6 separate regions of the Homo sapiens genome follow, and regions 2, 3, 4, 5 and 6 are each reported to be linked to region 1. Evidence: microRNA targets listed by miRTarBase, many of them from high-throughput screens and not tested one by one. Region 1 holds a microRNA gene; each other region holds the end of a gene's coding sequence.
Evidence for each region. Region 1 holds the annotated microRNA hsa-miR-3665 (AGCAGGUGCGGGGCGGCG, at 1,941-1,958, shown strand). A microRNA usually pairs through its seed, bases 2 to 8, with sites in the 3' UTR of a target mRNA and lowers its output. Matches are read on the target gene's strand: a 7mer-m8 pairs with bases 2 to 8, a 7mer-A1 pairs with bases 2 to 7 and ends in A, and an 8mer does both.

Region 2: miRTarBase lists CYP4A22 as a target of hsa-miR-3665. Seed matches in the 3' UTR shown: 7mer-m8 at 4,694-4,700 and 7mer-m8 at 4,604-4,610.
Region 3: miRTarBase lists COPS7B as a target of hsa-miR-3665. Seed matches in the 3' UTR shown: 7mer-A1 at 4,418-4,424.
Region 4: miRTarBase lists LAMA4 as a target of hsa-miR-3665. Seed matches in the 3' UTR shown: 7mer-A1 at 3,323-3,329 and 7mer-A1 at 3,258-3,264.
Region 5: miRTarBase lists WDR41 as a target of hsa-miR-3665. The part of its 3' UTR that is shown has no 7-base or 8-base seed match.
Region 6: the mRNA of KLF3 is a reported target of hsa-miR-3665. Seed matches in the 3' UTR shown: 7mer-A1 at 4,068-4,074.

The regions. Positions count from the first base shown.
Region 1 is chr13:77,694,958-77,700,032 of GRCh38, reverse strand. It overlaps MIR3665 (microRNA 3665), which reads left to right and starts at 1,917; the gene lies at 1,917-2,021. SLAIN1 (SLAIN motif family member 1) reads right to left here and starts at 2,346. Exons shown (of 7, transcript NM_001242868.2): 1 at 1,494-2,346. The coding sequence starts at 2,119. RefSeq lists silencers at 1,279-1,428, 1,589-1,828, 2,029-2,588.
Region 2 is chr1:47,148,430-47,153,504 of GRCh38, reverse strand. CYP4A22 (cytochrome P450 family 4 subfamily A member 22) reads right to left here. Exons shown (of 12, transcript NM_001010969.4): 12 at 3,778-4,903. The coding sequence ends at 4,708. All of the region lies in intron 5 of CYP4A22-AS1 (CYP4A22 antisense RNA 1), which reads left to right. Among named protein-coding and RNA genes, the nearest start is that of CYP4A22, 14 kb to the right of the region's middle.
Region 3 is chr2:231,807,075-231,812,149 of GRCh38, reverse strand. COPS7B (COP9 signalosome subunit 7B) reads right to left here. Exons shown (of 7, transcript NM_022730.4): 7 at 2,897-4,663. The coding sequence ends at 4,505. It also overlaps the pseudogene GAMTP1. Among named protein-coding and RNA genes, the nearest start is that of COPS7B, 23 kb to the right of the region's middle.
Region 4 is chr6:112,105,145-112,110,219 of GRCh38, forward strand. LAMA4 (laminin subunit alpha 4) reads right to left here. Exons shown (of 39, transcript NM_001105206.3): 39 at 2,787-4,438. The coding sequence ends at 4,293. Among named protein-coding and RNA genes, the nearest start is that of FAM229B, 20 kb to the left of the region's middle.
Region 5 is chr5:77,428,852-77,433,923 of GRCh38, forward strand. It overlaps WDR41 (WD repeat domain 41), which reads right to left. Exons shown (of 13, transcript NM_018268.4): 13 at 2,082-4,436. The coding sequence ends at 4,284. Among named protein-coding and RNA genes, the nearest start is that of WDR41, 61 kb to the right of the region's middle.
Region 6 is chr4:38,696,618-38,701,692 of GRCh38, forward strand. It overlaps KLF3 (KLF transcription factor 3), which reads left to right. Exons shown (of 6, transcript NM_016531.6): 6 at 465-4,900. The coding sequence ends at 646. Among named protein-coding and RNA genes, the nearest start is that of KLF3-AS1, 34 kb to the left of the region's middle.

The sequences.
Region 1 (5,075 bases):
TAAACAAGTTTCCTTCCACTGTTTACATACATACCATCAGAAAAGGCTAAGTAGGGACTAAATCAACCTAAAATAATTTGAAAGTGGCATAAGGGCTGAGAGTTATTAGTGAAATCTAAGGACCATCATGAGAGCATTTTCTAGTACCACATTCAGACTGAAACTGAGATTACTTTACAGAAATAAGGGTGCAGCTTTGAAAAAATGGCTTAAAGTTCCCAAAAGTGATGAGTTGTTTGATTTTTTTACACCTTGAGCTACCTGCACAGCTGCCAAAAAGTATTAAGGTGGATGATGAATACACCTCTGAAAGGCTTACTGTAACTCCATATATTTTGATTCTTGAATGAAACCAATTAACTAATGTACTTTACAGTTAGAGCTCTCACATGACAGAGTGTAAGGGAAAAGGAACACTGCAGTTCCCAATAGGAAACCAGTAAGGATCTCCATTTCCCAATCCCTTCCATGCAATCATGCAACAGAGACACAAAGAAAGTAATGAAAACACAGCTTGGAAAAACAGAAAGGGTCCTACATAAAAAGGACCTAAAGTAAAGAAGGACTACAGCAAGCCTCCCCCTAAAGTTACTCATTCATGGAAAGTAGACAGTGCTAACCAGATGTCAACTGAATAAATGCTGTCAGCCTCAAGTTTTCTGATAACCAAGCTAAAAAGTTTCCAAGAAATAAGAAAATAAGGCTTCTCTAATCTCACTTTTCTTCTACAGTTTAATTTAAAAAATTAAAGACAGTTCGTTGGTTCCTAGGTAAAAAAATAAATAAATAAATAAAAAAGTCCCTCCCACCTGTTCATTCCACTCCAAGAAAAGTCCTCTTTATTGGCACTATTTATGGGAAAGCCAGTGAGGTCACCCCATTTTAAAAAGCAAGTCAGTCTCTGAAAATAAGATTTCAATGAAAATGCAACGCAAAAGGGCACACGACTGCAAAATTCAAACAGCAAGAACGAACCTCTCTATAAAGAGAGATCCATCACTGCGCGGCTTCCGATGCCACCCGAGGAGGAAGAGCACGCAAATCCTGTCCAGCGTTCGTTTAAAACGAAAGAACAGTAACAGTCGCAGACAGAGGCCAACCCCTACCATCCCCCGTCATCCCTCCGAAAACACTGGGGAAAAGAGCAGCACTGAGCAAAAAGACAAGATGACATGGATTTTGCACTTAATGCTAACGAGGAGCTTGGGACCCAACAATCAGCAAATAGCAGAACCCATGGCAGATGGGGGGAAGGGGGGGCCGGTTCATCCGCAGTCGGAGCGATTAGAAAACAGGTTTCTGCCTTCATGAGAAGCCTCATCGTGGGAAGTGTCACCGCCTGGCTCAACACCTGCTGGGTCGGCCCCTCCGGGAGCCGCGGGGAGTCACCCCGGCTGCCGCGAGGGGACCCCCGTCCGCCCCCCGCCCCCGCTCCCCGGTGCCCGAAGCCCCCGAGGCCAGGGTCTCGGGGAAGGAGCGGAGCCAGGCAGTACCAGGTGTAGTCGTCCTCGTCCCGCCAGGCGGCTACGCTCTCCAGATCCAGCAATTCCACCTCGTCCAGCAGCGTGGGGGGCGGCGAGGGCGGCGCTGCAGCTGCCCCTGGCGGCGTCCCCGCGCCCCCCGGCTCCGGCCCGCCACCGCCCGCGCCGAAGAAGCCTGCTGCCGGCTTGAAGTAGACGAAGGGCGCCTCGGGTGGCTGCGCCAGGCTGCAAAGCAGGGAGGGCGCGGGGCTAGGCAGGCAGAAGGTGCCCGGGAACGCGGGGCTGGAGCCACCGCCGCTGCCACTACCGCTGCCGCCACCGCCCCCCGCGCCCAGCGCCAGCCCGAGCCCCAGGCCCCCTGAGGCCGCGGCGGTGGCCGTGGCGGCCGGGGGGCTCCGAGGACCCAAAGGCTGCAGGCCAGCGGGGGGCGGCGCGGCGGGCGGCGGCGGCGGCAGCAGCAGCAGGTGCGGGGCGGCGGCCGCGCTGGCCGCTCGACTCCGCAGCTGCTCGTTCTGCTTCTCCAGCTTGCGCACCAGCTCCTGCAGCTTCTTCACCTCCAGCTCCGCGTTCACCACCGGCCCGGAGCCCGCTCCAGAGCTGACCCCTGCCGAGGCGCATTTCACCTGCTCCGCCATCATCGTGGGCCCCGAGGGCGCCGCGGCCGCCGGGGAGTGCGCGCCGCCGCGCCGGCTCCTCGGGCCACGGGGAGGCTACGGCTCCTTCCCTGTCGCCCCGGCCTGGGGGGCCGACCACGCGCGGGCTGAGGCCGAGCCGGCGGTTCGCATCAGCACCGGGCCCTCGCCTCCGGCCGCGGCAGCCACCACCGAGCTGATCTGCACATGCTCAGTGCGTCCCTCCAGTCCCCTGGGCGTCGCGGCGGCTCCGGGTTTTAGCCGCGGCCCCGGAGCGGGGCGGGGCAAGAGCGCCGAGGGGGCGGGTGGGGGGGGGGGGGCGGAGAACCGTGGGGAAGCCCACCCAGGGGGCGGGGCCGGCAGCCCGGGTTGGGGCCGGGGAGCCGCACCCACCCTCGCTACCTAATCCCAGGGGCCTGATTGGACCTGGCCTGAACTTTCCCGCCACAAGCACCTCCTCCTGCCGCTTGGTGGGACAGTGAACTGCGCGGGTCTCTGAGGCGGTTGCGGGGACCAGGGGGTTCCCAAAGAAGCAGCTGCAGGTGCTGGCCCTCGAGTAGTGCACCACCGGCCCGCTGGTTTGCTCCCTTCCCAGCTCTCTGTTAGGCTCCGTGACAGCACTTAATAGCCACTGGCTAACGAATCCTATAGAAAACTTAAAGGCTGGGGATCGTTATTCTAAAAACCGAAAAGTGGAGATAGGGGGAACAGAAAGGCTTTGGGACCATGCCACTCATGTTCTCATTGGTAATAGAGAAGCAAAATGGTGGGAGACAGGAGACCGAGAAGAAAGAGAAGAAAGCCCTCTCTCTAAGAGGTAGAGTGGCCAGCTGCTAAGGAGACAAGTGTTTACTTATTTATTCTAAAATAGTCAAATTTGAACTGTTACCATCATTGTTTGTCACAATAAAAGAAGAACTGCTTTTTTTTTCATACTATGTATATTCATGCATTCCCCAAACAAAAGATCTTTGAGCACCTACTCTGTGCCAGGAACCATTCTAAGAGCTCGTGATGCGGGCAATGAGTACAATAGGCAAAAATGGTTATGGGGAGAAATATGAGTAAAATTGTTTAGTGCTCCTTCTATTAAATAATGTGTAAGTTATTAAAGTCAGACTTGCTGGTGGGAAAGCAGAAAACAGAAAACCTCAGAATTCTACCCAATACACTTTAATCTCACCTGCAAACCTGCTATTTCTTACCACTTGGAAAACGAGCAAATCTGCTTTTTTTAAAAGAGGCTTTTAAGCAGAAGAATTTAATCGAGTTGTGTTCAATGAATACTGACTGACTTAGCATTTTGAGTGTTTAACACAATCAGAGGAAAACCTGAGATTATATTATGAGAAAAATCTACACCACTGGTTCTCATCCTCAGATGATATACTATCTAGTGAAAGTCCTTGCTAGGGACTTTACATACCAATCTTTGTGACAATGTACCTCATTTCTCTGGAGCTGCTAACACATCGTATCTATTGGTTTCAGATATGGTTTTGTGTCTTCCTGCTCAGAAACACTTGTATCTTCTCAGTTGTTAATCTACATCTCTAGCTTCTGTGTGCAGGGTGGATGTTCTGCATTTAACATGCTTGGTGAGCGCTTCCATAAATTAGCTAAATGCGTGTGATGACTCCCTTAACCTTCCCTGTGTCCCAGCTTGCTAGCCCACCACCTAACCACCTGTATCACCCATCACCTTTCCAAGTTTCGGTATATCTTTAGGATTTTTTTTGGTTATTACCAAAACCTGGAGAAATGGAGTAATACTACTGAAAGTCCTAAGTAAAGAATCTATTGAAGGATTTTTCCCGCATGCTCAGTGGCAGATGCGGGTAGCAGTATCTCCCTGCAACACAAAGAAAGGGAGACGACAGACACAATGAGAACAAAGAGCTGCTGGGTCCCAGACTAGAGAAAGAAATTGGGAATAGGCACATAATAGTGAAGACAACAAGAATTAAGATGTAAAGAAAAGCCGTCATTTTACTGCACAATTTATATACACTCTAAAGAAGGAGAGAAACAGACAGCCCTTTCCTCCTTCATTTACCCAATATGGTCTATATACATCCAACAAGCAGTAGCCAAGCTTTTGAACCCTGTTTTCTAAGTAATAATTATCATAAAAATCTTTGTTCTTTAAAAAGAAAGCATGCATTGAAATTTAGACATAGAAAAGAGATGAAACATTGTTTTACAATTCTAGTCTGCATTATTCTTCTGAAAAGACAAATTTGCCCTTTTCCTACCTATTTTAAAAGTGTGAAATTATTAATGTCTAAAGAAAATTTAAATCATGTTTTTGCTTTCTCTTAATGCCCCTCTTTTTTTCCCTTCTGTGAATTGCACATGTACACACACCAGAGACACTCAAAATGCACACTGATTTCAAGTTGGTGTCCCCAGGATGCCAGTCTCTTTAACGTATAATTAAAGAGGTTGATGGTGTCAAGGTTTTAATTAAGCAGTCTTGATTTTTTTATTTTGATGCAAATTAGTAAGCTTTGTGTTTTGAAAGAAATTGCATGCTGTAGTTGCTCAATTGTAATGTTTTGATTTTAAATAAAATATGTAGGTGATTTCAGAGGTTTACAAAGAGGATATGAAAAATGAAAGTGCATGTCTCATTTAAAAGTTTATGCTTTAAGCATACATTTGATACACCATAAGGTAATGTGAAACATCCACATATCACACATTCAAAACTGGATAAAGAAATGCATGTTTCTCTCTATTCATTACACTTCAGAACTATCATCACTCTAGTGAATTTTAAGAAAGCACATGAACTTATTTTAATTTGTATTTTTCACATATATTTCTAATACTGTGTATGAACATTAAATAGATCCAGCAACAGAATCGCAAAAGCACCCATAGGTTCTTGAGTATATAAAAATAATTCTCAAAGGAAATCTAGAAACAGCCTGTTATTATCCCAGTTTTACAGATGAGC
Region 2 (5,075 bases), not on the chromosome of region 1:
TTCCAGGGGAGTGAACAATTCTGTCTCATTGGGGTTCCAGGTACCACTAGGGTATGAAGAAAAACCTCCTGCAGCTAGCATAGTGTCTGCCTGAACAGCTACACAGTTTTGTGCTTGAAACCCAGAGGCCTGGTGGTGTAGGCACATGAGGGAATCTCCTGGTCTGCAGATTGCAAAACCGTGGGAAAAATGTAGTATTTGGGCTGGATAGCGCAGTCCCTCATGGCTTCCCTTGGTTGGGAAAGGGAGGCCCCCAGTCCTTGCATTTCCCCGGTGAGGCTGTGCCCCACCCTGCTTCTGCTCACCCTCTGTGGCCTGCACTGACTGCCTAACCAGTCCCAAACTGATGAACAGGTTACCTCAATTGGAAATGCAGAAATCACCCACCTTCTGCGTTGGTCTTTCTGGGAGCTGCAGACTGGAGCTGCTCCTATTTGGCCATCTTGGCAGCAGATCCTACAGCGTTTTACAACCATCATCACTACCTATTTCCAAAAGGTTTTCATCACTCTAAAGAAACTCTGTAATCATTTAATGATAACTCTGCCTTCTCCAAGTCCTTGTTATTCTCTACTACTTTGTCTAATCTATGAATTTGCCACTTATGAGTAGAATCATATGATATTTTTCCTTTTATGTCTGTCAAATTTTACTTAGCATACTGTTATCACTGTCATTCCTGCTGTAGTGTGTATCAGAACTTCATTCTTTTTATGACTGAATAATACTCCATTATCTGTATACCACATTTTGTGAACCCATTCATCTGTTGATGGACACTTGGGCTCTTCAACCTGATGACTACTGTGAATAGTGTTGCTGTGAACTTTGGTTTACAAGGATCTGTTCAAATCCTTGCTTTCAAATCCATTGGGTATACATCCAAAAGTGGAATTACTGGGTCCCATGGAAATTGTGATTTTATTTTTCTGAGGAACCACAAATTGGTTTTGCAAATAGGCTATGCCAATTTACATTCACCAGCAATTCATAAGAGTTTCAATTTCTCCATATTCTGTCCAACATTTCATATTTTCCATTAAAAAATAATTATAGCCTTTCTAAAGGATATGAAGTGGTATCTCACTGTGGTTTTGATTTGCATTTCCCCAATGACTAATGAAGTTGAGCATCTTTCCAGGTGCGCTTATGGATCACTTGCATATCTTCTTTGCAGTAGTTTCTGTTGAAGTCCTTTGAATTTTTGAATGGGATTGTAGTATTTTGTTGTTTTGTGTTGGAGTCCTTTACATGTTCTCATTTGATTTGTGAATATATTCTGCCATTCTGTGGGCTATCTTTCAACCCTTCTATCCATTTTTTTTTTACTTTGTATATCGTGTATGTAAAAGTTCAACATCATTCTTTTACATAGAGATATTCAGATTCCCCCTCCTTGTGCATCTTCCCTATCTCATTGATCACTCTGAGGTCTCCACCTCTCCAATTGCAATGAGACTTTCACTTACTTGATTCGCTTCCTCTTCCTCTTTTCAACCAGGTATTAGGGGTAGTAATGGGAGTGAGTGCCCACTGTCCTGTGGTCTTTGAGCATGGCCAACATGAGCCCTTGTAAATCCCCTGATGCCAGGGGACTGGCTGGCCATCCTGTCCATGATGTTCCCAGGTCACTCTCCTCTCCGAGTTTTTCCATCTCCCTCCACTCCTGGCTGACCACCGACTGTCCAGCCCTCCCCTTTCCTGCCCATTCTCAGAGCAGGACTGAATTAATCCAATGACCGGGGAACTCAGGGGACTTGGAGGGAGGTCCTAGTTGCAGGCAAAAACTAGAAGAGAAGCCCTTTCAGAGTAACAGAATGAGCTTTCAGACCTCAGGCAGAGGAAATTCTCTCTATGGCATCCAAGGTCCTGGGCTAGGAGTGGGCAATTGGTGGGAGGAACATTTGGGTTCAGATTTAGGAAGAGAAGCAAGGTCTGCATTAAGAGAGGCTGGGACAATCAGTGACACTATCCCAGGGGTAGTACATGGGGCCCGGGTGCTGGAACAGGGCCCAGGGTCAGCAGTACCAGCACCCAGGCAGTCACCAAGTGTGGACAGGGTTGAGGATGCCCCTGCCCCATCAGGGTGGCCAGCCAGAGAGGCAGAGGACAACCAAGAAGTTGGTTCCCAAGAAGTGCTGTTGGGAAGGAGCTGCTTGGGGTCTAACAGCCTCTTCCACCAGCCAGACCCATTTGCCTACCTGGGCTCCTCCCACCCCTGACTGGACAGCTGCCCACTCCATGAGCTTCCTGAGAAGCCTGCAGGTTCCATATATGAAGGAAGTTGACAGGTACCTGGTGACGTTGCTAGGCTGGGGTCTCTTTCTGCACCTCACTGGGACTGTGGAGAGCTGAGTTTACAAGGTCCTCATGACAGACCAGGCCTTTGAGGCTTTCCTGCTCAGCTCAGTGCAGCCTCACTATAGCTGGGATGTGGGATGTTCCCAACCAAACTCCTGAAGCCTTGATCCCCAACACAGTAGTGTTGGGAGGTGGGTCCTAGTGGGAGATATTTAGATCGTGGAGACAGATCCTTTATGAAGAGATTAGTGACCCCTTCCACCTCACAGGCTTGAGTTTTAGCTGTATCTGGAATGGACAGGTTTCCAAGACATCGGGATCAAAACAGAGTCTTGCTTCCTTAGTCTCTCTCCTGCTTCCTCTGTCACCATGCAATCTCAGCATATGCCACTCCCTTTTTGCTTTCTGCCATGAGTGGAAGCTGCATGAGGCCTTCATCGGATTGAGCTGCCAAAACTTAAACTTTTCAGCCACCAGATCATGAGACAAATAAACCTCTTTTCTAGATCAATTACCCAGCCTTGGGTATTCGGTTACAGTAACACAAAACACAGCAAGACAGGCTCTTAGCTCAGCCTTGCTGTGATTCATCTTGAATCTAAATCTTGAATGGAATGGAGGCCTGGAGTCTTTTCCCTACAGGTGTGAGCTTCTCCCTCTGATCTCCTAGATAAATATCGTTTGTCTAAACTCAGCTACCATGGGAGCCCCAGGAGCTGGAGAGGGTGTGGGCACCAGGGGAGACATGGTATGAGGCTGTGTGCAGGGGGATGGATCAAATCAGGCCCTGCTAGGGTTCTGGCACCAATGGGCACACCTCATCTCCGTTTTCCCTCTTCAGTAGGGATTTATCTCCCTGCCTTAGTGTCTCCTCTTCTAACCCTATCACCTTCCATGTGAAGCTAGACAAAGCATGCAAGCTTGTGAACCTTATTCTAGAGAGGAGGGAAGATAGAGGGATTGTCTGGCTGACAATCATGTACATAGGTAGGTAGCATACAGGAGAGATTTAGATGGACACATCAGATGACAATCAGGTAGGGGCTGTGCCAGGATGAACAATGGGGTCTCCATGTTGTCCACATCCTAATTCATGAAACCTGTGATTGTGGGACTGCATATGTCACAATGGACTTTTGAGTAAGTAACGGATCTTGAGGTGGTGACATTATCTTTGATTATCTTAATAAGCTTGATGTAACTAACCACAAGGGTCCTTATAAGAGGGAAAGAGATGTGAAGACAGTCACAGAGAGAGAGATTTGAAGATGCCATTGGCTTTAAAGAGGAAGGAGGGGACAGTACCAGGAATGCAAAAAAAGGCAGCTCTGGAGCTGAAAAGCCAAGGGCTCTCCCTGAAATCTTCTAGGGGTGGGGGTTTGGCCCTGTCCAGAACTTGTTTTCATCCAGTGAAACCCATATCTGACTTTGACCTCCAGAACTGTAAGAGAATAAAAAGCTGTTATTTAAAATCACTGAGATTGTGATAGTTTATTACAGCAGCAATAGGAAACTAATATAGGAACAGACAAGCAGGCAGGAAGAAGGAGACAGGTGTATGGGCAGACAGTCTGGAGGGCAGGCAGGAGTTTGGGAGGTGGGTGGAGATTCAGGGATGTTGGGGTTATCGGACCCAACACCAGGTTGTGGGGGTGACAAAGTCCGGCAGAGTCAAAGGAATGAGAAAAGACAGTTTGAGAGAGAAAGTGGGTCCAGGGCGCCAAAGCTAAGTATGGAGGCTGTGAAGGCCCCGAGCTCTGGAAGTGCAGATTATTTATTGGTGATCAAACAAAGAAACAGGTGGTGAGAATGGGGGGTGGGTCGAAAGGGCATGTTGCATTAAGCACATGATTTACAGCTGTGACGGTTTAGCATCTGCTCTGTTACTTGAGATAATGGAGAGCAGGTTCTTTTAACTCAAGATACAATTGATCCTGGGAGAGCAAGGAGCGAGGAGCCAGCAAGTCCAGACACATTCCAGAGCCACGAGCCCTGGATTCTATCCAAGCCACGAGGGGTTTTATGCCCCGGGCTTAGATTATGGTGCGTCAGGGTAGCCTTCCACCCTTCAGCACAGAGCTTGGTGTTCCAAAGGCCACAAGGGGTTTTAGACCCTGGATCCTGGACATGATTCAAGACTCTTTTACATTATGTCAGACATGCAAGCTCGGCCTCAGCTTCTCCCAACACTCAGCTTTTCTCCCAACAAGATATACAGGTGGGTAGGAGACAGGTAGACAAGCAGGTAGGGAGCTTGGAGAAAGGTGAGAGAGAGAAGGGCAGGCAGACTGGGGGACAGCAGGCAGGTGGGAAGAAGGGAAGGTGGGCAGACAGAAAGCAGGACAGAGGCAGACAGGCAGGAGATAGGAGTGGGGGTCAGGAAGACAGGATGGCAGGTGGAGGCCCTCAAAGCTGGTCCTTGTCTTCACAAGGGTTAGGGAGCCTCCTGAGACGCAGGTGGATTCCATTTTTGGATTTCAACACAAGTCGTGCCATGGGGATGGGGATCCTGGTGGGATCAGGCAGCAGCTCAAAGCGGAGCAGGGTCAGGGCCCTGGCCACCTTCAGCTGGTTCATGGCAAATTGTTTCCCGATGCAGTTCCTGGGCCAGGCGGAGACAATGAATTGAGACGTGTCCTCAGGCCCCATTCTGATCTGAGCAGGTTTTGGCCCCTGACCCCAGCCCTGAGCTGGACATTCAGTGCCCAACCTCATGTGTCCAGCCCCTGCACACTTACAGCCCACGGACACTTCTACCCCATCCTGGCTTCACA
Region 3 (5,075 bases), not on the chromosome of region 1:
AGAGAAGTCATTAGAGTAGCCCACAGTGGTGTCTGCTGGGGAAACGCCGCAGACCAACGCAAGGATGGGCGTAAACAACCCCAAGAAGAGCTGGGCTGCCTCCTGTCTCTGCATTCCCATCACTTCTTTCCTTCTTGGTTTTATCCTTAACCACGAAGAGCAGTTCTCACCCTTAATGTTGACTCAACATTTCCTTTTGATAATAAATACTTGCTTAGCATCTACCTTTACTGCCCGACGTCAAGTCACAGACAACCTACTTAACAGACATAAGTTTAAAAGACCCACTTAATGCCCTAAGGGTAATATAAGCTAGATATAAAATGAAATTTACAATAAAATATGCATTTCCATCTGCATATCCCAGGCATAACTGCAAGAAAACACGGAATGAAGCAATGAGATGCTCCTGGCTATGTGCAGAATCCCAGGAAGAAACAGGTACAATCACAGATTACCCAAGCCATGCTAGACTTGAAACTCAGATACCGTGGGTAGTGTGATGGGTCCTTCAGGAACAACAAAAATCAACCAATTGCTGCATTTTTTAAAAAGCGAAGTCTCAGGCTGCCAGAAAAACAACTTTAGTACACAAACTGGAACACTTTGGTATCAGGCAACCCAGCACCTCAGAGGTGGAGAAAACAACAAACATATATACATATCACCAGCAGTTTATCACTTGAGCTTGTTTGGTCACCACCCCATTTCCTGTGACTGAAATGGGGAGAGGAGAATCCTACTATCAGTGATGACCATCTTGGATTAGGACTACAGGAATGGGCTATACTGGGGGCTTTGACCACCTCCCTAATGTTACCCAAATAGGAACCATAATGCCTCTCATCTGAACAGAAAGAGCAAAAAGGGCTTCAGAAGGCAGAAAGCTCAGAGGTAAAGAAGGTGGCTCAAGCCAGCTCACAGGCACTGCCATTGAGGTAATTCTCTTTAATACTGTGGTGTCTCCTTCCCTAAGATGTCTCACTGCTGATGAGGCCATCTCTTTGGAATGTTCTATTTATCTATAAAACACTTCTGCACATTTTAGACTTGAGCCCAGCTGCCAGGGTGCCAGACAGGAAACTGCAGAGCTTGAAGGCCAAGCCTCCTATCAGAGTCCCAGTGGAGCAATGAACATCTGGCTGGGCCACTATTCCCACAATTTCTCTATCCCATACTCTCTGCTTCCTTATTAAGTGGCTGGGTGGGTTTGGCAAGCAGAAATGAGGTATGTGAAAAGTGAGATGGCTGCAGGGACTGGGCCCTGGCACGTCGGGTTCCAAGTTGGGGCTCCATCTGCAGCAAGAGCGCCCCTACTGCAACCCCCTTCGCTGCCTTCACCACCTCCAAAGGGGGCCGAGTCTTAGAGGTGGGCTTCGGCATGGCCACAAGAATATGGAAGGTGCAGGAGGTCGCCATCCAGGAACACTGGATCATGGAGTGCAATGACAGCATCTTCCAGCTGCTCCAGGACTGGACCCAGCAGCAGCCACACAAGGTCATCCCCTTGAAAGTCCTGTGGAAGGAGGTGGCGCTCCCCTGCCAGGTGGTCGCTTTGATGGGATCCTGTATGACGCGTACCCACTGTAGAAGGAGACCTGGCACACACTAGCTCAACTTCATTGAGAACCACACTTTTCACCTGCTGAAGCTGAAGGGAGTATTGCCCTCACCTCCTGCTACCTCACCTCCTACAGGCAGCTGATGAAGTCCAAGTACTCAGATGTCACCACCATCTGAGACGCAGGTGCCTGTGCTATTGGAGGCAAACTTTCGGGGGAAGAACATCCTCAGGGCAGTGATAGCATTGGTCTTGCAGATGATCATGTCGTCCCTGGTCACCAAGCCTTCAGCCCACACAGACCTGGCCAAACAATCCTCTGCCACCCCTCCTCAGTGGCTGGGAGCTCAGGCTCTGGCCTATCATGGCTCCATGACTGATCCTGGCTGTGTCACTGGGCAGCTTTTCTGGCCTCTACAATGGGAACACTACTGCTTCCCCGCCAGGGTCCTTGAGGGCAAAATCAACACTAACACTGGGCTTGCCCCTCCCTCCCTCAAAATAAAGGCAAGATGAACTCTCAGAGGAACAGCAGCAGGTAGAGGGGTAGCAAGGATCAAGTGTGGAGAGCAGACTCTAGATGAGAATGTAACACAGCAGATGACAGGATGTGCAAGTCAGGAGATCTAAGAGTTCTCCTTCTGCCAGTTACCACTGGGACACTTCAAATCTTTGAGATTGTCTTCTCATATGCAAAGCGAAGATGGCTGAATACCCTTACCAACCTCAGAAGGCTGTTTGGGTGGAAGGGACTGAATGACTTATTGTATGCAAACACACTTTGTAAAGCACTTTAGAGACAAGTTATTATTGTCGCCATCATTATTTTTAAGGAAGGTGAATCATGGAGAGGACCCTTAGGGCCTTGGGGCAATCAAATAAAGAATGGTCACAGACTTCATACAAGTCAAACCATGTTTCCTAGTCTACTTGCCAGTGGGAAAAACAAGAATGAAAGAAAACTTGCTGAGAGTGACTGTTTGAGGTCTAGAAAGAATAGCTGGGAAAACCTGTAAGGTTGAAAGGTGTTCAGCTTCTCTTAGGGTTTTATTTGTAGCAGAGATGGGATCTCACTATGTTGTGTGGACTGGCCTCAAACTCCCGGGCTCAAATGATCCTCCCACCTCAGCCTCCCAAAGTGTTGGGATTACAGGCATGAGTCACTGCGCCCAGCACTCTTAGGCTTCTTCAGAAATATACTTTCCCCAAAATTTCCCTAAGATTTGTTCCACCTAGATATTACCCAAAAGGATTTGGCGGTAAAATCGATGTGGGTACAGGCTTCCTCAACAAGGAATGCTTGGACACCTGAGTAATGAATTTCCAATGAGGATATGGGATGCAGGGAGTGCAACATTTATTTCATAACAGAACCCCTTTTCCACAGAGCAGCTGACAGGGGGCTGCATGAAACATACTTTGGAAATTAAAGTGAACTCTCCACTTGGGCATAATGTTATGTGGGCACATGGATTGGCTTAAAAGGGAAACAAGAATACTTCAACATTTGATCAACAGTAGGCAGTTGCTGGACATTTTAGAAAAAGGAGAAATCCATTTTTTGACCATGGCTAAACATGGGGAAACAGCATCACATTTTCCTGAACCACCCTAATCCCAGCCCCTCAAGATCCACCAGGTATGCAACCCCAAACCCCAGTCACATACATTAAATCTACACTTTTATTTTTTTGTTGTAAAATGTGCTTTTTCCTCAATGAACTTTAATCAGTCCAGGACCTACAAACACACACACACACACACACACACACACACACACACACACACACCCCACCCCACCCCCACCCTCCAACCAGGTGAAAAATCCCCGGCGATTAGTCTATAACAAATATTGACACGAGGGGGGACAAAAGCATGTTGAAATGTATTAGAATCAGAACCTGTACAAAAAAAAAAAAATTAAAATATAACCTGAAACTGTTCAAGTTCAGAAGTCTAGTTAAGTCTTTTTCTCTTGCCAGGAGAATGCCATCATCAGAGGGCTCTGGGTCATCAGCCAAGGAGGGGTGAAAAGACAGAAGCAGCAACAGGTCCTTCAGCAGACAGAGGGGCATCGATGCCACCATCCCTACCCAGGTGCAGCCAGGAGGAGTTAAAGATCTTGGGAGAGCAAGCATTAGCCGGCAGTTCCAGTGGGCAGCTGGGGCCTACACACCGAAAACAAGGCTGAGTAGTCAGAGGCAGCAGGAAGAGTGGCCAGGAGAGAACGCCAAGCCGGAAGGAACCATTTCTGCCACCCAGCAGACCCACAGCACCCTCTGTCTGTGCTCAGATACCAGAGGTTAGTCAACCCAGCGCTCTCAACTAATTGGAGATCGGAGCTGGGCTTAAGAGGCTGAAAACCCGTGGGTTTAGTAAACACAGCCCAGCATCACGTCCCTCCACGGCCTGAACTGGAGCTGCCAACAAGGGATGAGGCAGGAGAGGGAAAGCAGCGCATCTTGACGCCTGGCTAGAAATCACTGCACCATCGTGAGGACTGTGGTACCAGGGGCTGGAGAGGAGTGCCCCCTCCTCACAAGGGGAGGGGCCTCCTTCACAATCATCCCTGGGGGCTGGTTAAAGCTGCCTCCGGCTTATAACCAGCCTGACAAAATGACGTGGAGCAAAAGAAAAACTGGGAGGGAGACAAGCCCTTACACAGAGACAAGAACCTCCTGGAGGGAAGCTGGGCAGTGTCTGACCCTGTTTTGGGATGGCATTGGTGGAGCCCCTGAGTCTGAAGGGAACAACTGGGGAAGGAGGGAGTGGGTGAGGGGGAGTAACAGTTTTTCTGGAACAGTACCAACAGGGTGGGGAGGCGCTGGTGAGGGGACGGGCAGGTCTGGAACTCACTGCAGGTAGAGAGGGGAGGAAATGGGCCCTTGGTGTCCCCTCCCCACCTGACCCAGGCCTGGTGAGTGCCAGCTGCCCCAGCCGGCCCTAGTGGCGGCTGGAGACCAGACCTTTCACTTTGGACATCTTCTTGGTGGGCTGCCTCTGCTCAGCGTGAGGGGGACACTCCCGTTCAGCCAGCTGCTGCTCCATCTCCTGAGCCGAGGAGGATGCGGTGGCTTTGAGTGTCTTCTTGATGTTGGTAACCTGGTGGGGAGATATAGAATTGGAGTGCTCAGCCTGTATGTGCTCACCAAAACTTGCTCTCACTATGTCTTCACTTCAGACAGGAAGCTAAAATCCTCTGCAAGAAAACCTGAAATTCTCTTCAGAAATCCAGATGAGCAGAAACGAGCCTGGGCTACTCACAGCAGATTTGTGGAAATGAGTCAAGCAAAAATGTGGGACTAATGCTCTCCTGGTTGAAACAAATGGAAGGGGAACATTTGGCAAAGAGGCACATCACCAACAGTGAAATAAATCGTGATTAAAATGTCCTCAGAAAGAGGGACCCAAGAATTCTACACTCTGCTGTTATTCATTTATAAAACCACAAATATTTTCATAAAAACTTTGGGAATACAGCTCCATGAACCTTCTTGAATAAACCAGTAGAGGA
Region 4 (5,075 bases), not on the chromosome of region 1:
ATACTAAGTGATACACTTCTGAATAACCCATGAATAAAAGAAGAAATGACTGAATAAATTAGAAAGTGCTTTGAACTGGATGAAAACAAAAACACAGCATATCAAAATGCATGGGTAGCGCTTAGAGAGAATTAAGGCAATAAATTATTTCATTAGAAAAGAAGAAACATCTCAAGGCAATGATCTAAGCTTCTACCTTAAGAAAACAGAAAAAAATGAGCAAACTAAATCCAAAATAAGCAGAAAGAAAGAAGTAATAAAGAGCAGAAACAATGATATAAGAGCAGATAAATAATAGAGAAAATCAATAGAAACAAAAGCTGGTTCTTAAAAAAGATCAATAAAATTGATAAACCTCTAGGTAGAATTATCAGGAAATAAAAAGACACAAATTATCAAATCAGGAATGATAGTAGGGGCATCACTACAGATTTAAGAAACTACCATCAGAGTGAACAGGCAACCTACAGAATGGGAGAGAATGTTTGCAATCTGCTCATCTGACAAAGGGCTAATATCCAGAATCTACAATGAACTCAAACAAATCTACAAGAAAAAAACAGCCCCATCAAAAAGTGGGCGAAGGATATGAACAGACACTTCTCAAAAGAAGACATTTATGTAGCCAAAAGACACATGAAAAAATGCTCATCATCACTGGCCATCAGAGAAATGCAAATCAAAACCACAATGAGATACCATCTCACACCAGTTAGAATGGCGATCATTAAAAAGTCAGGAAACAACAGGTGCTGGAGAGGATGTGGAGAGATAGGAACACTTTTACACTGTTGGTGGGACTGTAAACTAGTTCAACCATTGTGGAAGTCGGTGTGGTGATTCCTCAGGAATCTTGAGATATAAATACCATTTGACCATTTCACCCAGCAATCCCATTACTGGATATATACCCAAAGGATTATAAAACATGCTGCTATAAAGACACATATACACGTATGTTTATTGTGGCACTATTCACAATAGCAAAGACTTGGAACCAACCCAAATGTCCAACAATGATAGACTGGATTAAGAAAATGTGGCACATATATACCATGGAATACTATGCAGCCATAAAAAATGATGAGTTCATGTCTTTTGTAGAGACATGGATGAAGCTGGAAACCATCATTCTCAGCAAACTATTGCAAGGACAAAAAACCAAACACCGTATGTTCTCACTCATAGGTGGGAACTGAACAATGAGAACACATGGACACAGGAAGGGGAACATCACACATTGGGGCCTGTTGTGGTGAGGGGGGAGTGGGGAGGGATAGCATTAGGAGATATACTTAATGTTAAATGACGAGTTGATGGGCTCAGCACACCAACATGGCACATGTATACATATGTAACTAACCTGCACATTGTACCCTAAAATTTAAAGTAAAAAAAAAAAAACATTAAAAGGATAAATAGAGTTTTCAGCAGTATGAATTCTTTAATTCTTTAGTCTTCCAAGGCCTTTACCCTGAATAAATTGCCTTCCCACATTTCTTACATTTCCAGGTGTAAGCTTTCTGTAAGGGAATATTACAAATAGGTCCTAGGGCAACCTGGTGACACCATGCTTTCATAACCTTCCATCTGGCTGACATCAGCTCATTAATCAACAGTTTTTAGACAGGATCATTTGACAACATGTTCTGTTGAGGTTGCTGGTTTAGCTCTCTGTAAACTATGGTCTGGCTGGGCTGGTGAGGGACTCAAGCCTGAGCAGCCACCATCACTACACTTGAGAAGTTCCTTGAGAGATTCAACTGTTTCTTCCGGCTGCTAGGGTCATGCTACATTCCACTTACGTTTCTGCCTTCCTGTCCCATGCTTTGGCAGATCATCAGGCTTTCACCCCTAATCTCATCTTCCTTGTGCCCACCTCATCCTGTCCTCTAGCAGTCTTCTCTGGGAATGGTGTCCTTGGGTGCTGTGATGTTTAGAAACTGAGTGGTCCTATTCATGGTAGCCAAACTTCTTACCTACTTTTTCAGGACTTAAAAGGTTATCAGAGAGACCTGAGGGAGTGCTTTTTGTCTCTCTGAGGACTTCAGGCTTCTCTCCCACACCTCCCTCTCTCCCTCAGGCTTCTCCCTGCACCCTCAGGCAAGCCAGAGATTTCTGGGGCTCAGTCGAACTCAGATGGAGAAGTCACTGTCCATTTTTCCCTTTTCTCAGACTTCCAGGAAATTTACAAGTCAAGTGATTGCCTTAGGAGGTGAGGTGAGGGGATAACTTTATGGAAACTGGGCTTCCTTTAAATGCTCTCGTTATGAGCATATACTTACCTGCCAGGCACTGGTCTCAGCTCTTACAACATATCAGTGAATAACACAGATGAAAATTTATGGTGCTCACATTTTGGACGGGCATGTTCAGTTGGCTTTCTATACTCTACATAGACTCTGTGTGTGCCATTTGCTGCAGGTTTGTGTGTGTGGTGTTGGGGGCATCATGGTGTTGCACTGCCAGTTGTGCTGAAATGGTTTCTCTCACCCAGTCCTAAAGAAGGGATTGGCCCCTAGAAACCTGCTGCCCTTCTAGATGAGTCAAAGCAAGTGCCCTCTTGATTTTCCCAGTGAGACCCTGCCAGCTCACTACTTTATGGTACCTCTCTGGCTCTGGTCAGCTGGAAGGCAGATAGTCTTTGGAGGCAGGGAACCAAGGTGACAATCATGCTGCTCCTGGAGGCAGGCAGTCTTGTTTTGACTACCGGCTTCTTGGTCCAGCTGAATGACAGTGGGCGAGTTATCTGAGCTGCAAATATTACCTCAAAGGATTAGTGGAATGAACAAATAAAATAATTAACTTTAGCTTATCATGGTGGCTGGCACTTAGTAAGTCCTCTATGAACAGACATTAGCTATGTTTATCGATATCTTCAACATTATCATTATTTGTATATTTCAGACAGAAGGGTAGCAGGGGATATAGGTAGGTATGGACATATATACCAATATGTAATATATATATAATCATTTCAAGGTAACATTGTTTTATTCCCCTTGGTAATTCCTCAAAATATTTTATATCCTCTCCCCTCAAAAGTTACTCCTTTTATGTATTGTTAATTCTGTTGATATCAGGGCCTATTTTCTCTTTTTCTGTCTTCTGAGTTGAGGTTTTTAGATATAATTCTTTTATTTCATTTCTATATTTTAATATTCTACCAGCTATTCAAGTCCATTTTTTTCTAGACTATATTAATGTAGCTACTTGGAAAAAAGATTATAACATTTTAGAAATAAGACTAGTTGTGTTGCAGGTATGTGGAGAGCACACTTTGTTTTTGAGACAGGATCTCACTCTGTTGCCCAGGCTGGAGTGCAGGTACAGTCAGCAGTCATAGCTCACTGCAGCCTTGAACTCCTGAGCTTAAGCGATCCTCCCGTCTCAGCCTCCCAAGTAGCTGGGACTACAGGTGTATGCCCATGTACAAATTTTTTTGCAGAGATGGGATCTCATTATGTTGCCCAGGCTAGGAGCAAACTTTTAATAAAAGGACTTGTGTACTCTTAAATTGAATTTTATGATTTTGTCCTACTGTTTTTGCTGTGATATCCTCAATGATTCCCATAGAACACACAATAATGGTAATAATAACCTACAGAAGCCTCCTCTCATGTACAATTTTATTTTTCTTTTAAGGAGATAAGGAAGGGGAAAAAGTAGTTGATTTCCTGTGTTTCTTATTTAGAAAAAATTAAATTATACTGCATTTTTCTAGTATTCTGTTAGAAATTTACTTTATTAAACCTTGATAACTTCAGCTATAAACCTAAAATATTCTTCTTATACTGATAGACCAAACAAAAGGGCTAAAAACAAATCTATCATCTAATTTAGATTATATGTAAGTTAGTAAGTCTCTTCAAAATAAAGAAAGGTAGTTTTAGGACAGAGATTTTTATATAGATTGAAAGTTATCTTCCCTGGAAGAAAGGTGAATCTGAGAATCTAGCCGCACTTCAAAAATGTGTGCAAGTGTTTATTTGGAATCCCTTCTATTTTATTAGAAACAGAAACAGTAATTTCACCAGTAGGAATTGCGTGTGCTCTCAATACAAGTAAGTTTGCCACTCCTTCAATTGTTGTCCATTGCAGACACTTTGGATTCAAGGTTAAGAATCCAAATGAGAAATAAGAAATATCCGGTCCCTGATGATTCGTTTAAGTCCTGTTCAACTCGATGAAAGCTTCCACCCGAAGGAAGAGTTACTGTTCCTCCTGGCTGGCTTTGTGTTTCTTTCAGTGCTCTAAAGAACTTTGTATTTGGGCAGCTGTGCTCTGTCATGTCAGGCTGCTGGACAGGAGTTGATGCTTACGGCGCCGCTGACCAGGGCTGCTTTACTGAAGCTCACTGGGTGTCCATCAATCACAAAGTGGCGTATGCAGCCTGTGAAGGGTTTGCTGGGGGCCAAGCGTGGTGTCAGTAGAGATTCTGAAAAGAGCAAGAAATAAAAACAAAGATTGCAATTGAGGTATTCCAAGCCCAAATATTACTTCCTGGTAAAAGTATACATATTTGCTCATATCATCAATATGATTTACATTTCAAAAATAGAACATAGTTATAATTGACTCATTTCTCAGTAACATTATTTGCTTGTGAAGTCCTATGGACATGTGGTAATTTTAACGTTTTGCCATGTTTTCCATGATCACATTTCTGTGTATTGTAGCTGTCTTTCAAGGCTGAAATTTACCACTTACATGTAAAGCCTCAGCAGTGAATTTTCATGATCTACCTATGTTTTTTAAAGTTAATTTCACCTGGGCCTCACTTATAATGTGTACTTTGCTAAGAAGGAGGAAAGAAATTTTAGCTTCCACACTATTTTTGGACTTGGTTAATATTTCTGTTTAATTCATTACCCTTCACCCTTAAGCCTCTACATTTTTGCCTGTTCATAAAATATAATGAGAAAGTAATGAATTCGAATAAACTAAGATTCAATTTTTCTGAGCTCAGGGTTTAAGAACTATAAATAGGGTAATGATAACTCGCTTAGTCTTTGTGTGGGCACAAGTGCCCTGTGGTATGCCAAGGGAACTTTCTCCTCTTAATTAGAAATCTA
Region 5 (5,072 bases), not on the chromosome of region 1:
GCTGGACCAGAATGACCCTATAATTTCCTAAGATCATTCTTTATTTCTAATTTAAGATTTTTAAATTTACTTGCCCTCCATGTCAGGACTGGTTAGCATTCTGGGCAAAAAAAAAACAAGCCTGTCAGTTCACTCAGAACCTACTCAGCTTTAGAGAGAGAAACAGAAGGGATGATCTTGTGCCCTTGCGCTATGTGAATATAGCCAGAGACTGAGGTAATAAATATATTTTAAAATAAAAATGACAAGGGATTTGTACACTGTAACACTATGTAGTGTTACTTCTGCTGTTGCAAGTATCTTAACTGTTGAAAGCTAAACTCAGGAAATGGAGAAAATGTACATAATATACATTGACCCATTATTTTATTCTAAATTGAAAGTCCAACTTTTAGCAGCAGTCTACCTGCAACTACTGAACACCATCAGGTTTGAGTCCCTACCAGAATCTCCCATCATACTGTTATCCCCCATCTCTGTGACCTTAGGGCATGCATGAAAACAAAAGCAATCTAGTCCCTAGGGTTGGAGACTGCCCTCTAGACAGTTTTTCATGGCAGAAAATTAGAATACAAGTATACCTCATTTTATTGCATTCTGCTTCATTGTGCTTCAAAGATACTGCCTTTTCTACAAATTGAGGGCTTGTGGCCACCCTGCATAGAGCAAGTCTATCGGGGCATTTTCCCAGCATGGGCTCACTTTGTGTAAGTGTCACATTTTGGTAACTCTTAGAGTATTTCAAATGTTTTTATTCTTGTATCTGTCATGGTGGTCTGTGATCAGTGATCTTTGTTACTACTGTAATTGTTTTAGGGTACTGCAAACCATGCCCGTATAAGACAGTGAACTTAATTGATAAATCTTGTGTATATTCTAACTGTTCCACCAACTAGCGGTTTCCAGTCTCTCCCTCTTCTTAGACCTCCCTATTCCCTGAGACACAACAATATCGAAATTAAGCCAATTAATAACCTACAGTAGCCTGTAAATGTGCAAGTAAAAGAGTCACATGTCTCTCACTTTAAATCAAAAGCTACAGATAATAAAGCTTAGTGAAGAAGGCATGTTGAAAGCCCAGGCAGGTGAAAGCCATGCCTCTTACACCAGTTAGCCAAGTTATGCAAAGGAAGAGTTCTTGAAAGTGTTAACTCCAGTGAACATGCAAACAAGAAAGTGAAACAGCCTTACTGCTGAGATGGAGAAAGTCTGAGTGGTCTATATAGATTAAACAAGCCACAACATTCCCTTAAGCCAAAGCCTAATTAATTCTTCAATTCTTTCTTCGAAGACTGAGAGGTGAGGATGCTACAGAAGAAAAGCTGGAAGCAAGCAGAGGTTGGTTCATGAAACTATCCCCATTAACGTCAGAGTGCAAGGGACAACAACAGCAGGAAGTTGTCCAGATGATCTAGCTAAGATCACTGAAGGCGACTACACTAAACAACTGAGTTTGTGAAGATGAAATGGTCTTCTATTAGAAGAGATGTCATCTAGGACTTCATAGCTGGGGAGAAGAAGTTCAATGCCAGCGAGTGTAGTTGGTGCCTTTAAGTTGAAGTCAGAGTTTATTTACCAGTCCAAAAATCTTAAGGCCCTTAAGAATTATGTTAAATCTACTCTGCCTATGCTCTAGAAGTGGAATAACAAAGCCTAGATGACAGCATATCTGTTTATAGCATGGTTTATTGAATATTTAAGCCTATGGTTGAGACCTGCTCAAATTTCTTTCCAAATATTACTGCCCATTACAATGTTACCTGGTCACCTAAGAGTTCTGATGGAGATGTACAAGGAGGTTCATGTTGTCTTCGTGCCAGCTACCACAACATCTATGCTGCAGTCCATGGGTCAAGGAGTCACTTTGACTTTTAAGTCTTATTTATTTAAGAAATACATTTAATAAGGCTGTAGCTGCCCTAACTAGTGATTCCTCTGAAGAGTCTGGGCAAAGTCAATTGAAAACCTTCTGGGAAGCATTTAGCATTCTAGATGCCACTAAGAACATTCTGATTCATGGGAGGCGGTCAAAATTCCAGCATTAAAAGGAGTCTGGAAGAAGTGGAGCCTGAAGATGTGAATGAATTGCTGTAATCTCATGATCAAACTTTAATAGATGAGAAGTTGCTTAAGAATGTGTATAGAAAGTGGTTTCTGGAGACAGTCATTTCCACAGTGAAGATGCTGTAAACATAGTTGAAATGACAACAAAGGATTTAGAATATTCTATAAACTTAGTTCATAAAGGAGCATCAGGATTTGAGATGACAGACTCTAAATTTTGAAAGAAGTTCTACTGTGGGTAAAATGCTATTAAATAGTATTACATGTTACAGAGATCTCATTTGTGAAAGGAAGTCAATTGATTTGGAAAACTTCATCGCTATCTTATTTTAAGGAACTGCCACAGCCACCCCAACCTTCAGTAACCACCTTAGTCAACAGCCAGCAGTATCAAGACCCTCCACCAGCAAAAAGATTATGACTCGCTGAAGGCTCAGATGATTGTTAGCATTTTTTAGCAATAAAGTATTCTTAAGGTATGTACATTTTTTAGAAATTTAAGACTGTAGTATAAACACAAGTTTTATAGGCACTGGGAAACCAAAAACTAGATGTGACTCACTCTATTTGCAATAGTTGCTTTTTTGATGTGGTCTGAAACCTAACCTGTAGTATCTCTGAGGTACGCCTGTATAATGACCAGAAGGAATTTGCTGTGGTACTTACGGTACCATTTGCTTCCAAAATTCATGTGATTTCTACCACTCCATTTGAATAGATTACTATCACAAAATACTAGCCTAGAACAGGCTAGGAAGTAAAACAGTTAAGTCTATGGCTCCCTTGTGTCATACAACTTCAGAAAACAACTTTACAAATGTATGGGCCAATGCAGAATTTCTAAAGGAAAAAGCACGTGAATAATGGGAGAAAGTCTTCTGTAATTGAGGTAGCTTAAGTTTTAATATTTCTCCATAGAACTTTTCATGACTCAATGTTGTTTGGATTTAAAGTAGTCATATAAGCCTTTTCTCATTCAGTCTTCAGTTCCTGTTTTTAGAGCTGCTTGGTGATACTGGGCACTACAGATTTAATTGCAAGGCCTTACTGCACTGGGCCTCAGTTTCCTCATTTGTAACATTATGCCACTGGTCTACTCAGATGACCTTAACTCTTCCAGTCTTTGTAGGTAGTTGTGGAAGCAACTGTCAAAGCTAAAACTAGTAAAAGAACTTATGGAGATTCCCTTTAGGGTATATTTGTAGTATATTTGTATAATGAACAAATAAATCTGTAGGTTTTCTGTAAGAAGGGTCAGTCTGCTAACATCTGTCACGTTGCCCTTTCTTCATCAGTAGTTTAAGAATTTCAATCTTTAATGTGTAGACTACTTTCTAATATTTTCATTTTTTAGCACCAAAAGGAGAAAACATATTGTTACAAGGCTGGTTATAGTGTCTCAATGGACACTGCAAAGAACTACATAAAAGAAGTCTGTCTCAAGCAGTTCGTATTTGAGTCAGTGGTCAGATGGGGCAGTTGCGCTCAGCTGCAGTCCCTGACTCCGGAAACACTGTGCCTCTCAAATGATCTAGAGCTCATCCTTGGCGTACATGAGGGGCAGTTGTTGTTCTAGTACCCATTTAGCCCATGGCTCTTCAAGCCAATTCACACTGGGAAAAACACACCCTCACAAGATGCCTATCCATTTGAGTTCATACAGGTTTTAGTAGCTAGAACTAAAAAACATTTTTAAAATTATCTAAACAAATTGGTACCAAAGAAAACTTGCCATACTTAAACAGTATATATGTTCCCTTTTTTGGCTGAGAGATTCAAGTTTGTGCTATATAGAACACTAACAGTTACTAAAGACTAGGAAAATTTGCAGGAGAAAGGCTATTTTTAAACTTCACAATAATTCTAAAGGAAGCCAAATAATAAAACTTCTAATAAATGCCATAACTTAACTATTACCTCTATTTGTACCTTTCACAAGGATCTAGGTTCAAAATAAGCTCAAAACACAGCACTCACCACTTCAACAGCAGCTCAAAGTCAAATGGAAAAACTTGTGGTATATTCTTTGGAGGATATACTAGGACCTGAGAAGCAACATGTTCCTGGTTGGTAGGTCCACAAAAAATTTAAACATGTAGAATTTTATGGACTGACAAAAAAAATTACCAATTTAAGTGATCAATATATTAATGGTTTTCAGAGTAGTACCCGATATTTGATGTTCAAGGTTCATGCATGTGTATTTTTAATTCCTTAAACTAGACAGCAAGGTATAAGTCACCATTCTCCTCTAATTTTTGAAATAATCTTAAACTGCGCAATCCAGATTCTCGCTCTCCATTTTTCCACAAAATAATGAGATGATCAGCGGAGCACGTCACTAGTCCATGATCTTCAAAGTATAGAAACATCTGTAAAGAAAATTAAAACTGATTATAGGGACCCCGAAAAGCAGAGAAGTGTCTAATACCACATTAACACATGTGCGTGTGAGATATGTGCCTTAAAGACTCCTTTGGATCTGGGTGTAGAACTTCATTTCATTTTTCAGTATTGGTAAGTCACATACAAATAATATCTAATATTTTAATCAGAATTTTGTTAATATTGTTCAACTACAGAATAGCTATTTTTGTAAAGTACATGAATTCTCATAGTTCTTCCAGATTTTTTCATCATCTGATTTTTCAAGTATTGGTTTTACTTAACCATTACTTATACTGTATAATGGCTATGGAAAAAATGTCTGAATTCTAAATTTCCCAAGATAAACACTGGCTTCAGCTCTCTATAAAAGTAGATATACTCAATCCATAGGTGTTAAGTGTCAGCACTACGTTTATGGTCCCTACCCTCAAGAAGATTCTGAAAAGCAAATCATAATTGAAACAATAAAGGTACCAATGAGAGATTATGTAATCAGGTACTAAATAATGCAGTATAGACTATGACATGTCACAGAAATTCAGAAAAAGCTTCAAAGGGAGAAAATGCCCCAAGTAAGGGGAAGGGGCTTGCCCAGTGAAGGAATAGGCTGGAAGCTAAGA
Region 6 (5,075 bases), not on the chromosome of region 1:
CTAACAGATACTTCAGTTGTTAGAGACTTCATATTTTTGGAAAACTATTGAAAAGTTTAAGAAAATCCCACAAACTTTCAATTTGGAGTTCTCATTATCTCATTAAATGAATAGCACTGCATATAATTAAGCTCCCAAGCAGGTTTAAGATTTGGGAGATGTGCAAATACAGATCACCATGTGTTCATTCACTATTTGGTAGTCCCTCAGAATGGATTTCAGTGACTCTGTGTTTTAAGAACTCTTAAAATTCTCCTCCCGTTTTTTTGGCAGAGAGCCAATGAAACATTACGGTATTAGTTCATTTTCTTCTTGCTTGTCTTGCAGTAGTTTATAATGCACTGTGTTATTGAAGAACAAATGTATGAACATATCTTGGAAATAATATTTGTCAAGCATTAACTCAAAGATCTTTACTACCTTTACAGAAAAAAAAAATAGCTCTTTTCTTTTTCCTTTTGCAGGAGAAAAACCCTACAAATGTACATGGGAAGGGTGCACATGGAAGTTTGCTCGGTCTGATGAACTAACAAGACATTTCCGAAAACATACTGGAATCAAACCTTTCCAGTGCCCGGACTGTGACCGCAGCTTCTCCCGTTCTGACCATCTTGCCCTCCATAGGAAACGCCACATGCTAGTCTGATTGCCTCTGTGTCCTGCCTCAGCGTGACTCCCCACTCACCTGGCTCTCTCTCTGTCCTGCCTCCCATTATCTAACACATTTTTTACATGTACATTTTAATTTGATTCAGCTGGTCTGAATCTCTGAATTTATATCATCCAAAACTTCCATATGGTCAGTAGTAGATGTTCTCTAATCCTCCCTCTCCTTACCACGGGTCAGACCTAAAGAATGTGAACACTTTTTTTTTTTTTTCTGGGGATGCTAAGCAAACCCTTCTTACAGATACGTTTAATGTAATAAGAACAAGGGAACATGTAAACTAACATAACCAATTGTCAGTTCTCCATGTATTCCTCAAAAGAATGTCAGAGTAAATGTATTAGAAATACAGTATCCAGACTGCTAGTCCTTGCCAGAGACATTCTTACCTCTGCCCTGTGATAATATTTTATGCTTGACAGTGAAAACAAGTGTGGCCCCTTGCACCGGTTAGCTAGAAGTACAGCCAGATTTCAAGCTAGTGCAGTCACCTCTTCCGTCATTCTTCACAAATCTTGTCAACCTGGATCTTAGACTTCATCTGAATCGAGTTCTTTGCCCTCCTTTGTGCCTGCAGCTCATATGGAGGTCTTTGCCACCAATGGGAGATGAGCCCAAACTTTCGATCTAGGTGGGTGATGTGTAGCAGTTCAAGGGAAGGGTGCTGTGTTTTCATAGCATGGAGTCGGAGGAGAGGGCCATTTAGCAGGGGGAGCAGAAGAGGCAATTCCTCCTGGGCTAGGGGTTGTCAGTGAGGTTTCAACATTTTGTTAGCTGTGTGCAGCATTCCCAGAGCTTCAGTCTCTGTGCATACTCAGCTTTGTAGAACCATGCTGCAAAGCCATATACCGATGGGGTTATCCATGCAACTATCTCCATTCCTACAATGTCCTTAATATGAGATCATCAAACATTGATAGTAGGGACTCCATGGAATATTTGCCCAGTAATGGTAAGAAATCTTTCGGGTAAGAGTATGGATGGTTCTTCTTTTACCCAATCTGCTTATAGCTTTTTTTGTAAACAGGGAAATGTTGAGTGGTACTTGTATTCCCTTATCAAATTAATCACATAGCTTTTATACAGAAACTCTTCCTGTGTGAGCTGTTAAGGTGCCAAATTGGCTGTCATTTGTATTCATGACACATACCATAAAGCATCTGCTAATGCTTTAATGGATTGATTCAATTAAGACCTGAGTGACACTATTTGTAAATATAACTAGTTGTGAAGCACACATACCTTTATTTTGGGAATTTATGAGAAAATATAGAAAACCACAGATCAGGGATTCATATATGTAGCTCAAAAATTCCCAAAAGTTTACTGTTAGAGTTGGCAATTTCCTATCACTATTTCAGTGTCAGAACAAACTGAAAATAATGGCTCGTGTTTATGTTGAAGATAAATAGCACCATTATTGGGGGAAGTTATTCAAAAGCAGGCTTTTGAGCACCATAGTCTAAATGCCAATAAAAATAATTCATACATAGAAATGTCATTGGTCCTGAATTTGAAGAAAGTGAGCAACAGTAGTTAAATGTGGGTGCATATAACCAAATTCCCCTTCATCAAGAATGGAGGAGAAGAGAGAAGAATGAAATCCTGAAGATTCATCCCAGCCGCAACTCAGGATCCAACACAACTTTAACTGGGAGGAATACATTGTTTGATCATTTTTAAAACATCTGTGAATGAGTGATTCCGGAGGCCTGTGAATTGTGTGGGGAGCTTGCTTTGATGGCACTGTGTTAATAAAAGTTGTAGGGACTGTGCACCTAAGAGGCTAAGAGGTCCCACTCATCCGCCCTGTGAACCAGCTGTAAAGAAATGTAGTTAAGAAATGCAAAGAAATGTGTTATCTTGGCACTTGGGTTTGATTTTCCTTTTTTTAAAGCACTGCAAAACTTCTTTAGGATACTAAAACATCCTAATTGGGCTGTTTTTTTGTTTTGTTTTGTTTTTCAGCTAAAGGCAAAGATAATTTTTTTTTCAGCTGAAGTTTTTCTTTTTTGCAACTATGACATGAATTGAGTGATAAAATGGCTCTTTGAAAAGTAGATATTGTCTGTATTGTAAATGCTTAGTCATATTCATGGCAAAGTGTTCATTTCTTGAGATGGTTCTTTCACAACACACAAGAATCAAGATGGAACGCAAGGAAAATCTTTTTGTTTTGACCGAGGTAACCAGTTTATGTGTGTTCCAATCCATAGAGAAGTGGGGGAAAGGGCGAGAAAGGATCAGATTGATCTGGGATCAGCTTTGAGCCTGAGTTCAGTGAATAGCCTCATGGGCATCTCATGGAATTGATGCATTTGCTGTGGCATATTTAAATTTTGTTCAAAAGATTTGAAGCAAGACCTTGCAAAGACTCTTAACATTACTGTTCAGCTTGCTTAGATTGTGTTAACAGTTCATTTAACAAAGATCCGTTTTAACTCTGAACAAAAGCAACCCAGAGCGGCCATTCTCTATTCCCATGCTGGTCAATACGCTTTCATTACCAATTGGCCCTTACCAAACTTTTCTTATATATATATTTGTATTTTACTATGATAGTTGAGAAATTTAGCCTCTTAGTCATTTTTAGCTGTTATTGTGGAAGACCTCAAATACAAGATTAGATGCCCTTGAACATGTTTTAATGATGTGTGTCATGTTACTATCAATGGTGATTTCAATCGCAATATTTTAAATTGATGAGAATGATTTGTAAACATGAAGTTACTATTACGTAAATTCTGTTTGTTATAGAGTTTCTTCAGTTGTTACCCAAGTGTCATCCTAGAGAAGTCAGAAGAATCAGAATCCATCGTATTTTAGAGTTATGTGAATCTACATCATAAATGGGCATTAACATTCTAAATTGCTTGGTTTGGAGAATGTGTTAGCAGCATAGCTATATTCAACTAGGGAGATGCTAAATACACAGAAGTTTCAAGAGCCTTGGAACAGAATTACAGGGGAACTATATATGTATATGTATATTTTATTAAACACCCATCTGCACTATCAGTATTGCACTAATGTGGAATTTGAAAGACTATTTTGCTGATACTGTATATATGCGCATCATTCCTGATTAGATTGTTGTAAAGACAATCTGAAAGATCTAAGGTTTTAAAATAATTTGGTTTGAAAATATACAGTTGTCTTGAAGGAATTGCTGTCATACATGAAGTTGCTCCGAGCTGTCTTTATTCTCTTCTTGGTCAAGGTTAACAATTGCTAAATGATCGCAAATTCACCTAAACAATACATTTACAAAGCCATCTTTACATGCATTAAACGAGGGCTACAACAATATTGTTTTACAAATACTAGCACTTTTTTTTCTGTTATGTACTTAGTGTTAGAGGGTCAAAATAATCTTTCTGCTTAGCATCTCTTAAACCATACCTGCAAATATAGCAGGATTATTACATTTACAGTACTTTAATACTTGTATAAACTATGCAGAAATTTTTAATAAAGTGTAATATATTTTATAAGCTAATAAGACTGAATGGGTAAAGGTTTTTAGCATGCATTAGTATACTTGCAGATACTGAAACATTTTGGTAATCTTTCTTACTAAAGATGTGAATGTTTAATGTACCTTCTCTGTTTCTACTCTGTAGTCCAATGGGAATTCAGTAATGACATTTTGTCATGTCAAACTGTGAACATAAATTTGTACTGTACAGTCCTCATATACTATATACAGTATGCAATATATATTATATACTTGTTAATAAAACCATCAGAATATTAAATGTGATCATGTGATTACTTCATATGCAGTGATCACTAGAGCAAAACTTACAGAGCAATGTAAGAACCCTTGCTTAGAACATTACTTACTCTGATGGGCAGTTATTGTTGATGGAGGGACAGAAAAATAGATCTAACTGGAAGATGAACTACCGGAATTAACTCAGCCCTCAAGCTATGTCCCTGGTTTTCTGAAAACAGCCAACAGGAAGTCTCCTAGGCTGAAATCATAAAACTGCAGACAATCCAGCAAAAATCTACAAACTCACCTAGTTCATTCTTGAAATACTTCTTGTATTTGTTATTTATGAACCCCTGCCTGCTTCCAAAAAGAACTTGCAGCATTTTGTATTAAAAGACGCATGTGTATAATACTTTAAACTTTTAGAGTAAAATATCAAGACTCTCATGTTGGGGAGTGGGGAACGAGGAACAGAACAATAACGCATTAAAGTAAATAACTCTGGATAAAAGTAATTATTTTTCAAGCCTTTAGTAACCATGTTCATGGACACTGCATTCTCCAGCATCACATGAAGAAGAAGTAGTTTCCGATAGGGATTTAGAGTTGAGTTTTGTTTTGTTTTGTTTTTGTTTTTGTTTTTGTTTTTGTTTTTTGAGACAGTCTCGCTGTGTTGCCCAGCCTGGAGTG